Linked DNA regions of Homo sapiens: region 1 is linked to region 2. The links come from fine-mapping of genetic effects on gene expression. A gene starts in region 2. The other region holds a variant in brackets. All regions are shown on one strand. Distances are from middle to middle.

Region 1 (5,372 bases), 51 kb before region 2:
CAGGAGTTTGAGACCAGCCTGGCCAACATGGTGAAACCCCGTCTCTACTTAAAACACAAAATTAGCTGGGTGTGGTGGCGCATGCCTATAATCCCAGCAACTTGGGAGGCTGAGGCAGGAGAATCGCTTGAACCCAGGAGGCAGAGGTTGCAGCGAGCCAAGATCTCACCACTGTACTCCAGAGCCTGGTGACAGGGCGAGACTGTCAAAGAAAGAAAGAAAGAAAGAAAGAAAGAAAGAAAGAAAGAACGAAAGAAAGAACGAAAGAAAGAAAGAACGAAAGAAAGAACGAAAGAAAGAACGAAAGAAAGAACGAAAGAAAGAAAGAAAGAAAGAAAGAAAGAAAGAAAGAAAGAAAATGGAAACTACTGACCCTTCGAAATTAAAAGTATAACAGTACAAAATTACACAGCCCAGGAATCAAAAAACTTCATTTTGCATAATCCCCAAACTAAAGACATTCCCCCCCAAAACACAGTTTTAATGGAGTTATAACTTAGAAAGAAAGTAAAATTATTCAACTCCATTTTGTCAAAGCTGAATGTAGCTATAAAAAGAAGACCTGGAGGTCATAAAGTTAGTGGAGAGTTCTTTCTAAAGCCGTACTGGGCTGGGCGCGGTGGCGTGCGTCTGTAATTTCAGCACTTCGGGAGGCCGAGGCAGGTGGATCACCTGAGGTCAGGAGTTCGAGACCAGCCTAGCCAACATGGTGAAACCCCATCTCTACTAAAAATACAAAAATTAGCCAGGCATGCTGGCAGGTGCCTATAATCCCAGCTACTCGAGGTTGAGGCAGAAGAATCGCTTCAACCCGGGAGGCGAAGGCTGCAGTGAGCTGAGATCGCACCACTGCACTCCACCCTGGGCAACAAGAGTGAAACTCTGTCTCAAATAAATAAAGCCGTATCTGCACCCATGAACATATCTAAAAGTGGCACATCAAATTTGATTAAGTGAGATCCATTAGGTATCAATGCAATCACTAAAAAAACCTCATCATTCTTGATACTTTCTCCATTTTTTTTTTTTTTTTTTTTTGAGACAGGGTCTCCCTGTTGCCCAGGCTGGAGTGTAGTGGCGTGATCTCAGTTCACTGCAACCTTCACCTCCTGGGTTCAAGCCATTCTTGTGCCTCAGCCACTTGAGGAGCTGGGATTACAGACACGCACCACCACATCTGGCTAAGTCTTGTATTTTCAGTAGAGACAGTGTTTCACCATGTTGGCCAGGCTGGTCTCAAACTTCTGGCCTCACGTGATCCGCGTGTCTTGGCCTCCCAAAGTGCTGGGATTAAAGGCGTGAGCCACCGTGCTCAGCTTTACAACATATCAACAGGGCTGGACTGTGCTCATCTTTAGAAAATATCAACAGGGCTGGGTGCGGCAGCTCACACCTGTAATCCCAACACTTTGGGAGGCCAAGGCAGGAGGATCACTTGAGGACAGGTGTTCAAGACTAGGAGAGATCCCGTCTCTACAAATACTACAAAAATTAGCCAGGTGTAGCAGTGTGCACCTGTAGTCCCAGCTACTCGGAAAGCTGAGGCTGGAGGATCGCTTGAGCCCAAGAGTTCCAGGCTATAATTGCACCACTGCACTCAAGTCTGGGCAACAAAGAGAGATCCTGTCTCTAATGGAAAAGAAGGCCAGCATGGTAGCTCATGCCTGTAATCCCAGCACTTTGGGAGGCCGAGGCAGGAGGATTGCTAGAGACCAGGGGGTCAAGACCAGCCTGGGAAACATAGTGGGACCCCATCTCTACAAAAAATAAAATTAGCCAAGCGTGGTGTTGCGCACCTATAGTCCCGGCTACTTGGGAGGCTGAGGTGGGGAAGAATCACTTGAGGCCTGGGAGGTTGAGGCTACAGTGAGCCACGATAACGCCACTGCACTCCAGCCTGAGTGACACAATGAGACCTTGTCTCGGAAAACAACAGCCCAAAAAAGCCCCAAACTTTACAAATCTGGAACTTAATGAAGTGTAAAATAAACAAATATGTACTCATGGCCTCCACAGCACAGCAGAGGTTAAAAAATAACTATAGAATTCTATAAAGAAACCTCTACTTTAAGAAGATTCTAAGCCAATTCTATGACAAGACCAAAGTTATTTTACAAAGGTCTCATCAAGGAAACTGTCTTCAAGGCAGTCATGATGTTGCCCTCCTGTAATCAATCCCAACTACTCAGGAGGCTGAGACAGGAGGACTGCTTGAGCTCAAGAGTTTGCACCAGTTTGGGCTACATAGCGGACCCGTGGACCCCTGTCCCCACCCCGTCTCTAAAAAAAAAAGAAAGCTGTTTTCGGCAAATAAGGACTCTTGATACAATATAGTTTACAAAGCAAATAGCTAAAACTGATTAAGTCTTAAATCTGCATTACAACTCTAAATATTAGAGCCCTCCTCCCCGCCTCAACTTGTCACTTGAAACTACGAAGAGACCCAAGTGTCCCCTATTACAAATCCAAAATATTCATTTATAATTTTCAGTTTTCTTTGAACACAGAAGCCTCCTAACAGTAGACTCTCAAAGTAGAAATAGTGAATATGAAATCTAGGAAACCATATTACCCAAGTATTCCACAAGGAACAACGTCCTGTTTAGCACAGCATTTCAGACACACAAATCTTATCCCTTAAGCCACAACAGACACAAGAAAATGCAAAACAAAATGCACTCATAAAAGGGAACAAAAGGAACACTGACATAGTAGCTACTGCTCATCTATGTATGGCACTCCTAGGCAGTTCACCTGTGTTATTTATTTCATTTGGCTGAAATGCATTACTGACCCAAGAGACTAGTGGTATGCCCATTTTACACATGGAAAAAGAAACAGCATTATCAATACTGTATCAGGCACTGTTCAGTGCCTAGCATAAGTTACCTCAATTAATCCTCACATTACTATTCTGAGTTGGTATCTCCACTTTAAAGACAGGAAAACAGGGCCAGAAATGTTAACTGGTGGTACCCCAAATCCACTGTCCCAAGCTGTCACAGCTATCCTTACCAGGCTGTGTTTATAAAGCCCATTCAAGTCACATCATTCTTTCAAACCATTTCAAGGATTCCACAATCAAAAAATCAACTCTCAATTACAGAAAGACTTAATTCTCCAGATTTTCATCAAAATTTTCTTATTTCTATTTTATTTGCCTTTTGACCATTTCAGTGTACTGTAATTCTAGTATACGTGTTCTGGTAACTATAGGATTATATTAATAGCAATCAACTTTGGGAGGCTGAGGCGGGCAGTTCACCTGAGGTCAGGAGTTTGAGACCAGCCTGACCAACATGGAGAAACCCCATCTCTAC[T/C]AAAAATACAAAATTAGCCAGGTATGGTGGCACATGCCTATAATCCCAGCTACTCGGAAGGCTGAGGAAGGAAAATCACTTGAGCCCAGGAGGTGGAGGTTGCAGTGAGCTGAGATGGTGCCACTGCACTCCAGCCTGGGTAACAACAGTGACACTCACTCTCAAAAAAATAAAAATAAAAAAATCAAGAATCAAAGAATAGGCCAGACATGGTGGCTCATGCCTGTAATCACAACACTTTGGGAGGCCCAGACAGGCGGATAACTTGAGATCAGGAGTTCAAGATCAGCCTGGCCAAGCCTGGCCAACATGGCGAAACCCCATCTCTAATAAAAATACAAAAATTAAGACCGGGTGGAGTGGTTCATGCCTGTAATCCCAGCACTTTGGGAAGCCGAGGTGGGCGGATCACCTGAGGTCGGGAATTCGAGACCAGCCTGACCAACATGAAGAAACCCCATCTCTACTAAAAATACAAAAATTAGCCGGGCATGGTGGCGGGCACCTATAATCCCAGCTGCTTGAGAGGCTGAGGCACGAGAATTGCTTGAACCCCTCCCAGCAGAGGTTGCAGTGAGCCGAGATTGAACCACTGTACGCTAGCCTGGGCGACAGAGCGGGACTCTGTCTCAAAAGAACAAATAAATACTGACCTTCATTCAGAACCATAAAGTCTCCAATACTCATTATTAAGAGGTTAATAACAAGAGTTATTAAGAGGTTATTAAGAGGTTAATAAGGAACATATTGTTAATAACAAGGAGCATTAAGAGGTTAATAACAAGGAGTGAATCTGAAGTCTTACAGCATAAAGTTTGCCTAGCTGCCAGAGACCTTATTTCTATTTCTTCTTTTTTTAGTAGAAAAGTTTTACAAAATTTGTAGGAAAATACAATAATTTTTGTATTTTTTGTAGAGATGAGGTCTAGCTATGTTGCCCAGGCTGGTCTCAAGCTCCTGAGCTCAAGCAATCTGCCCGCCTCAGTCTTCCAAAGTGCTGGGATTACAGGCATGCACCACCATGCCCAGCCCCTCTCTCTCATATGTATACGTGTGTGTGTGTGTGTCTGCGTGTGTGTGTGTGTGTGTGTGTGTGTGTGTGTGTGTATATATATATTTTTTTTTTTTTGAGATGGAGTCTCCCACTCTCACCCAGGCTGGAGTGCAGTGGTGCCATCTCAGCTCACTGCAAGCTCCGCCTCCCGGGTTCACGCCATTCTCCTGCCTCAGCCTCCCAAGTAGCTGCGACTACAGGTGCCTGCCACCATGCCCAGCTAATTTTTTGTATTTTTAGTAGAGACGGGGTTTCACCGTGTTAGCCAGGATGGTCTCGATCTCCTGACCTTGTGATCTGCCTGCCTCGGCCTCCCTACATCTTTTTAAGGGAGAAAAATAGGAGAAAGGCCTTTCATGCAATTGACAGATACTCTCAGTATCTTTTTTTTTTTTTTTTTGGGCGGGGGCCGGGGGCGGGGGCGGGGGAGGGAATGGAGTTTTGCTCTTGTAGCCCAGGCTGGAGTGCAGTGGCTTGATCTTGGCTCACTGCAACCTCTGTCTCCCTAGTTCAAGCGATTCTCCTGCCTCAGCCTCCTAAGTAGCTGGGATTACAGGCATGCGCCACCACACCTGGCTAATTGTGTATTTTTGGCAGAGACGGGGTTTCTCAGATGATCCGCCCACCCTGGCCTCCCAAAGTGCTGGGATTACAGGTATGAGCCACCACGCCGGGCCAACTTTCTTCACACTAGAACAAACTGAGAGACCTATGAGTATCTTTGAAATGTTCATACCTGAAAGTATTATTCTAACTAGGCCATTAATGACAGATTTACAAATTTATCTGTGCACAACATAAGATACCTAGAAATTGGTCCACCTAAGAAAGCCATTCATATATTATAGGTATAAAGCAAAGGCAGGAACTTGTCAATTCTTATCCTCTTCATGTGATACTTTTTCAGCACACATTTTTTGAAAACGCTGTGCCAGGCACAGTGGCTCACACCTGTAATTGCAGAACTTTGGGAGGCTGAGGTGGGTGAATCACCTGAG
Region 2 (5,372 bases):
CGCTGCTCCCTGACCCCTTTCCTGGCCTCACCAGGGGCCCTTCCTGCACAGAGGAGGCGAGAACAGTTGGGCTTTGAGGTAGCTTCCTCCCCCTTGAAATCAGAGTAAAAGAGAAGGTGACTCCTTTCTCTTTGCTTGGAGGCTGGTTACTCAGAAGAAGGAGTGGCGAGCCAGGGGCTACTGGGGATGGACAGGGACAGCAACAATTCCAGCAGGGCTTTGGCAAGGCTGTGAAGTCAGCAGCTTTGTTCCTTGGGAGTGATGGATTGGAGAGGACAGATAGCCAGATCTGGGTTCAGGTCCTGGCTCTACCACTCACACTGTGAAACCTTGGGCAGGTTCCCTAACTTCTCTGGGCATGGCTTCCTCCATGTAAATGGGGAAGAGACCTCACACACAGGCTTGCTGTGGGGGTGTGCTGAGATAGGTGTGAACATGGTTTGTCAACGGCAGTGCTGAGGTGTGCAGATGCTTCTGTCGGTTGCCCTGACAAAAGTGATCTGGTCCAGTTCTTGACGTAAGGGTTTAGGGACTCAGTCACTCCTACCCCTGAGAGCTTGGTGAAGGCACTGCTTAACTCAAAGGAGTCACTCTCTGATGTAGGGATTCCATCCTGCTTCCTAGTAGGGCACGTGCTTTGGGGCTTGAATACCCAAAAGCCCTGATGTGGAAACAAAACAGGAAAGAAATGAGCTGGAGACAGCCTGGGATGTGGGCTGCTTTAGAAAATGCCCTGTATGTGTAGCTCTGTGTCTCTTAGAGACAGCAGGGACCTGCTGAGAAGGGTTGTCAGGTGTAGATGTGCAGAACGTCCCAGCTAGAATCTAGCTCACACTCCACATGTTAGAGCAGCACCTGGCGTAAAGTATGCCACCTTCTCATTCTCATACTAAAGACCCCAAGTTGCTAGCCAACTGAATGCTGTCTCCTTCCAGAGGAGGTGCTTTTTGTAATTCTCACAAAGGTGTCCTATGGATTAGTTAGGTGTCCCTTGGTTAGGACAGGGAGGAGGGAAGGGGCCATCCACAGTGGTGAAGATGGCACCTCACAAGTGTCCAGTGCATTCCCTTTTACAAAGTTCTTTTAGACACATGGTCTTGGCAAACCTACAAGACAGGTGGGCCGTCTCCCATTTTATAGATGAGAAAGCTGAGGCCCAACAAGGGAAAGCATTTTGGCCCAAGGTCACCCATGGAGCACTGAGGTTTTTTGACTCAAATTCCGTATGCCTTCCTGTCACTCTTCCCTCCTAGACACAGGTATGTCCAGCCAATTTGTTCTGTGCCTCAGTTTACCTTTTTGCAAAACTAGGAGAGGAGATCAGAGGAATGAGTCTTGGGATCCAGGGTGAGGAAGACAGAAAGCAAAACCAAACAAAAGCAAGCAAACACATTCTCTAGTGTTTTGTCTTCTGGGAACACGGAAAACAGCTCAGCTTTTCCATACCGCTGCTTTCCTAGTGGGTCCTGCCCCAGAAGCAGCTGCCCAGCAACCTCCTGACCAAGGCTGGTGCACCCCACCAGTGCCAAGGGTCTTCCTGTGCACCCAGTACCCAGCCTCCGTTTCACCCACACTGCCCAATTCCCAGATCCCTGGATCCTCGTCCTTCCCTGAACCCCCTTCCCTGAGCAGGTCAGAGGTGTGGGAGGGTGTGTCAGGTGGGTGTCATAGCTCCAGGGAAGGAAATGGCTGTTCCTGGCTCTGTCCAGGTGGGGTTCAAAATAGTCATCTTCAAAGAGAAAAACTGGGACACAGAGCTGGAGAGACCCAGAGCCCCGGAGCCAAGGCGGGAGGTGCAGCGATGTCAGGCTGAGGGGATCGCAGAGTTCCCCCTTGCCCTGCCACTCACCAGTTAACCCTTCCCTCAAGCCCTGCCAGAGCCCCCTCCCCAACCTACCTTGAAAGCCCCTCATCCTTCCAAGAAGTCCCACTTTCACAGAAGCCAATTAATCCTTATTTTTAAAAAACAAAAACCAATCCCTCTCCCCCGAGACCTTCCCTCCATCCATCCATCCCTTTGGAATGAAAGCCCTTGTGCCTGTTTCACGAAAAGGCTCCCAGGTCCTCCTTTCAAGGAAAAAGGACCCAATTTCCCCGCGCCTCCCCAGCCCTCGCTTCCAGTAAAGGGGGAACCTCGGCTCCCTGCCTCCCCTCAGCTGCCCTCACCTGGCTGGGGGCGGCGGTCGAGTCGGGTTCGGTCTGAGCCCGCGATCTGGCTCCGGGCTGCGGGCTGCGGGCTGCAGGCTGCAGGCTGCGGGTGCCGGGCTGCGCGCTGACCGCCCGCGCTGCGGCAGGGGCGGCGGGGGCTCCGGCTGCTTTTCCCGGCTCTGAGGCGGCAGCGGACAGGGTGCTGGGGCCAGGGGCCGGGCGTGGGGAGGCGTGAGGGAAAGGGAAGGTCAGCTAGAGAGGGAGCCGAGCGAGAGCGAAGAGGCGGGGGAGAGACGGGAGGGGGAGAGGAGGGGAGTAGGGGAGAGGGAGGGGCGAGCTGCGGGGCCTAGGGGCTCCGCACGGAGTCTGCGCCGAGCACTGGACCCTTCCTCATCTGTGACCTCCTTAGAGCTTCGTCCTCTGGGTCTAGAGAGCAGGCATCATTAATCTGAGCAGTTGGGGAAACTGAGGCCAGAGGCAGCAGCTAACGCGGGGTGGCCCAGAGCGCTCTACAGTCCAGCTTCCTTCCTAGTGTGGGGAGAGAGGGCTAGAGCTGGACTCAGAGGCTGGACTAGCCTTTGGGCTGCAAGGACAGTGGAAGGTGAGATTTTGGCTGGGACAGATGTCCAAGCTAAGTGGCCTTGGGGGAGAGGTCTGAAGGAAGAGAAGGATAAATGGGTCAATGTTGCCAGTAAAGGAAGAGCTGAAAATAACCTAGTTTTTCCTCCTCACCTCCAAATTGGAAAATGCCCACGGTCGGTTAGGAAAGAGGGAGAAGGGAGTCTGCAGGCATCAGAGGGGCAGCCTGCGTTCCCCGGGGTGAGGGGCAGTAAGGAGGAGAGTCCTTGGGGCAGAATGGAATTTTCTGCTGGGAAGGTTGCTCCTGCAAGAAGGGACAGGATTGAGAGGGCAATAGGTGGGGAAGAAAGGCCTCTGGAGAGGGAAACTGATGCCCTGCCTCGCTGGGGCCAGGCTAGCAAGAGTCCAGCAGGGCACCCGGGCTGGGAACAGCGGTCTTCCCATGGTAATACTCACCAGAGGCACTAGTGCTGGCCTCTACTCTGGGCTTCGAGCCCGTGGGATGGGGGCTCAGACTCCCTTTCTCTAGGCTGCTGTTCTCTCCCCTGACGGCTGTAGAGGTGACGACACTGCCTGGCACTCAGTAGATGCTGACTGAGTGGATGACTTTTGAAGAGCTCTACTTTCAGCAGCCAAGAGCTGGTGCCCTCTGCCTGGCCCTGGTTGACTCCAGAGCCATGGGCTCTAATTCTGCCTCTGCTGCAGGTCTGCTCTGTGGTCCCTGAGAGGCCTGGACCCCTGCAGAACCCCCGTCCTCTGGAGCTTTCCTTTTGGAGCTCTCAAAGTTTACCCCACCCCAGTTAATCTATTTGTCTCTAGGAAGATGTTGGTAGAGGTGATTGGCTCTGCTTCAAGGGTGTTAGGTGAATGATGGAATGAATTAACGAATATGTGCCAGAATAGAAAGGAATGAATGGAGGTGTTTTGGGCTGGATAATGAGGGTATTTGGTGACAGAGGGTGAAGCACCTGTCTAGCCCTTGTCAGATCACAACTGTCTCTTTCACCAACTTGAAAAGCTTGGGCCACAGGACTGTGGGGAGGACAAGAAGCAGGGTAAGGGTGGGATGAGCCACACAGGGATGTCGAAGGAGAGCTGGGGGATGCCAAAAGCCAACCTATGGCAATCTATGGCCCTTCTTAGGGCCATGGGCCCCTTCTGGATGAGAAGAGTGGAGCTGCTCTCCTGAGGGTGATTCCAATGGTGGGAGGGGAGGGGAGGGGAGAAGGTATATTATAGGATAATATAATCTCAGTTGAGGTTTGGTTCAGGCTGGGATTTGACACTCCCTGGATCCACAAGAGTTCTCACCAGAGAAGTGAGGGTTGAGGTAGAGATGGGTGGCTGGGGCAGATGACATCAGGATTTGCATCAGGGGACTGGGATAGGGAGGAAGCCACTGGGAAAGGGATATAGAGAAAGATGATGCCATGAGCTGGTGGGTGTAAGGCAGATGGGTGGGCTCCAGAATGGGAGTTAAGAAGAGGTGGCAGCAGGATCCAGAGAAAAGCCCTAGGCTGGTTATAGTCCCTGCTCCCTCCTCTCTTGTTTTGCAGCCACAATTTTATTTATTTTTGAGAGAGGGTCTTGCTGTGTCACCTGGGCTGGAGTGCAATGGTATGATCTTGGCTCACTGCAGCTTTGACCTTGCGGGCTCAAGTGATTCTCCCACCTCAGCCTCCCAGGTAGCTGGGACTACAGGTGCAGGTCACCATGCCTGGCTAATTTTTTTTAAAATTTTTTGTAGAGACGAGGTCTCACTCTGTTGCCCAGGCTGGTCTTAAACAACAATTATTTTATTTATTTTTTAATTGAGACGGGTATGGCTGGGCATGGTGGCTTACGCCTATGATATTAGCACTTTGGGAGGCCAAGGTGGGAAGATCGCTTGAGCTCAGAAGTTTGAGACCACTCTGGGCAACAGAGTGAGACCCCATCTCTCTCTCTCTTTTTTTTTTTTTTTTCTGAGACAGACTCTCGCTCTGTTGCCCAGGCTGGAGTGCAATGCTGCGATCTTGGCTCACTGCAACCTCCGCCTCCCGGGTTCAAGCGATTCTCCTGCCTCAGCCTCCTGAGTACCTGGGATTACAGGAGCGCGCCACCATGTCCGACTAATATTTTGTATTTTTAGTAGAGACGGGGTTTCACCATGTTGGTCAGGCTGGTCTTGGAACTCCTGACCTCGTGATCCGCCCGCCTTGGCCTCTCAAAGTGCTGGGATTACAGGCGTGAGCCACCGCGCCCAGCTGTCCCCATCACTTAAAAAAAAAGTTAAAAAAATTAACATTAAAATATATATAAATTGAGACGGGTTCTTTTTTCTTTTCTTGAGATGGAGTTTTGCTCTTGTTGCCCAGGCTGGCGTGCAATGGAGCAATCTTGGCTCACCGCAACCTCCCGCTCCCAGGTTCAAGTGATTCTCCTGCCTCAGCCTCCTGAGTAGCTGGGATTACAGGTATGCACCACCACCCTGGCTAATTTTGTATTCTTAGTAGAGATGGAGTTTCTGCATGTTGGTCAGGCTGTTCTCAAACTCCTGACCTCAGGTGATCCGCCCGCCTCAGCCTCCCAAAATGCTGGGATTTCAGGAGTGAGCCACTGCGCCTGGCTGAGATAGGTTCTTACTCTGTCACCCAGGCTGGAGT

Alleles and levels. Positions count from the first base shown, and alleles are read on the strand shown. Sizes are in standard deviations (SD) of each study's normalised expression.
In carriers of allele C in region 1, the expression in esophagus mucosa of the gene that starts at base 2,430 in region 2 tends to be lower than with T alone (moderate effect, 0.42 SD a copy in GTEx).

What was found. PIP is the estimated chance that this variant, and not a neighbour inherited with it, causes the effect.
Region 1: its variant is the best candidate, but not a certain one, in a credible set for the expression of C1QTNF4 in esophagus mucosa (GTEx, PIP 0.56).

Annotation. Positions count from the first base shown.
Region 1 is chr11:47,541,480-47,546,851 of GRCh38, forward strand. The region is part of intron 1 of CELF1 (CUGBP Elav-like family member 1); the gene reads right to left. Among named protein-coding and RNA genes, the nearest start is that of CELF1, 9.0 kb to the right of the region's middle. RefSeq lists an enhancer at 688-1,187. The variant T/C (reference allele first, on the strand shown) is at 3,321.
Region 2 is chr11:47,591,982-47,597,353 of GRCh38, forward strand. It overlaps C1QTNF4 (C1q and TNF related 4), which reads right to left and starts at 2,430. Exons shown (of 2, transcript NM_031909.3): 1 at 2,167-2,430.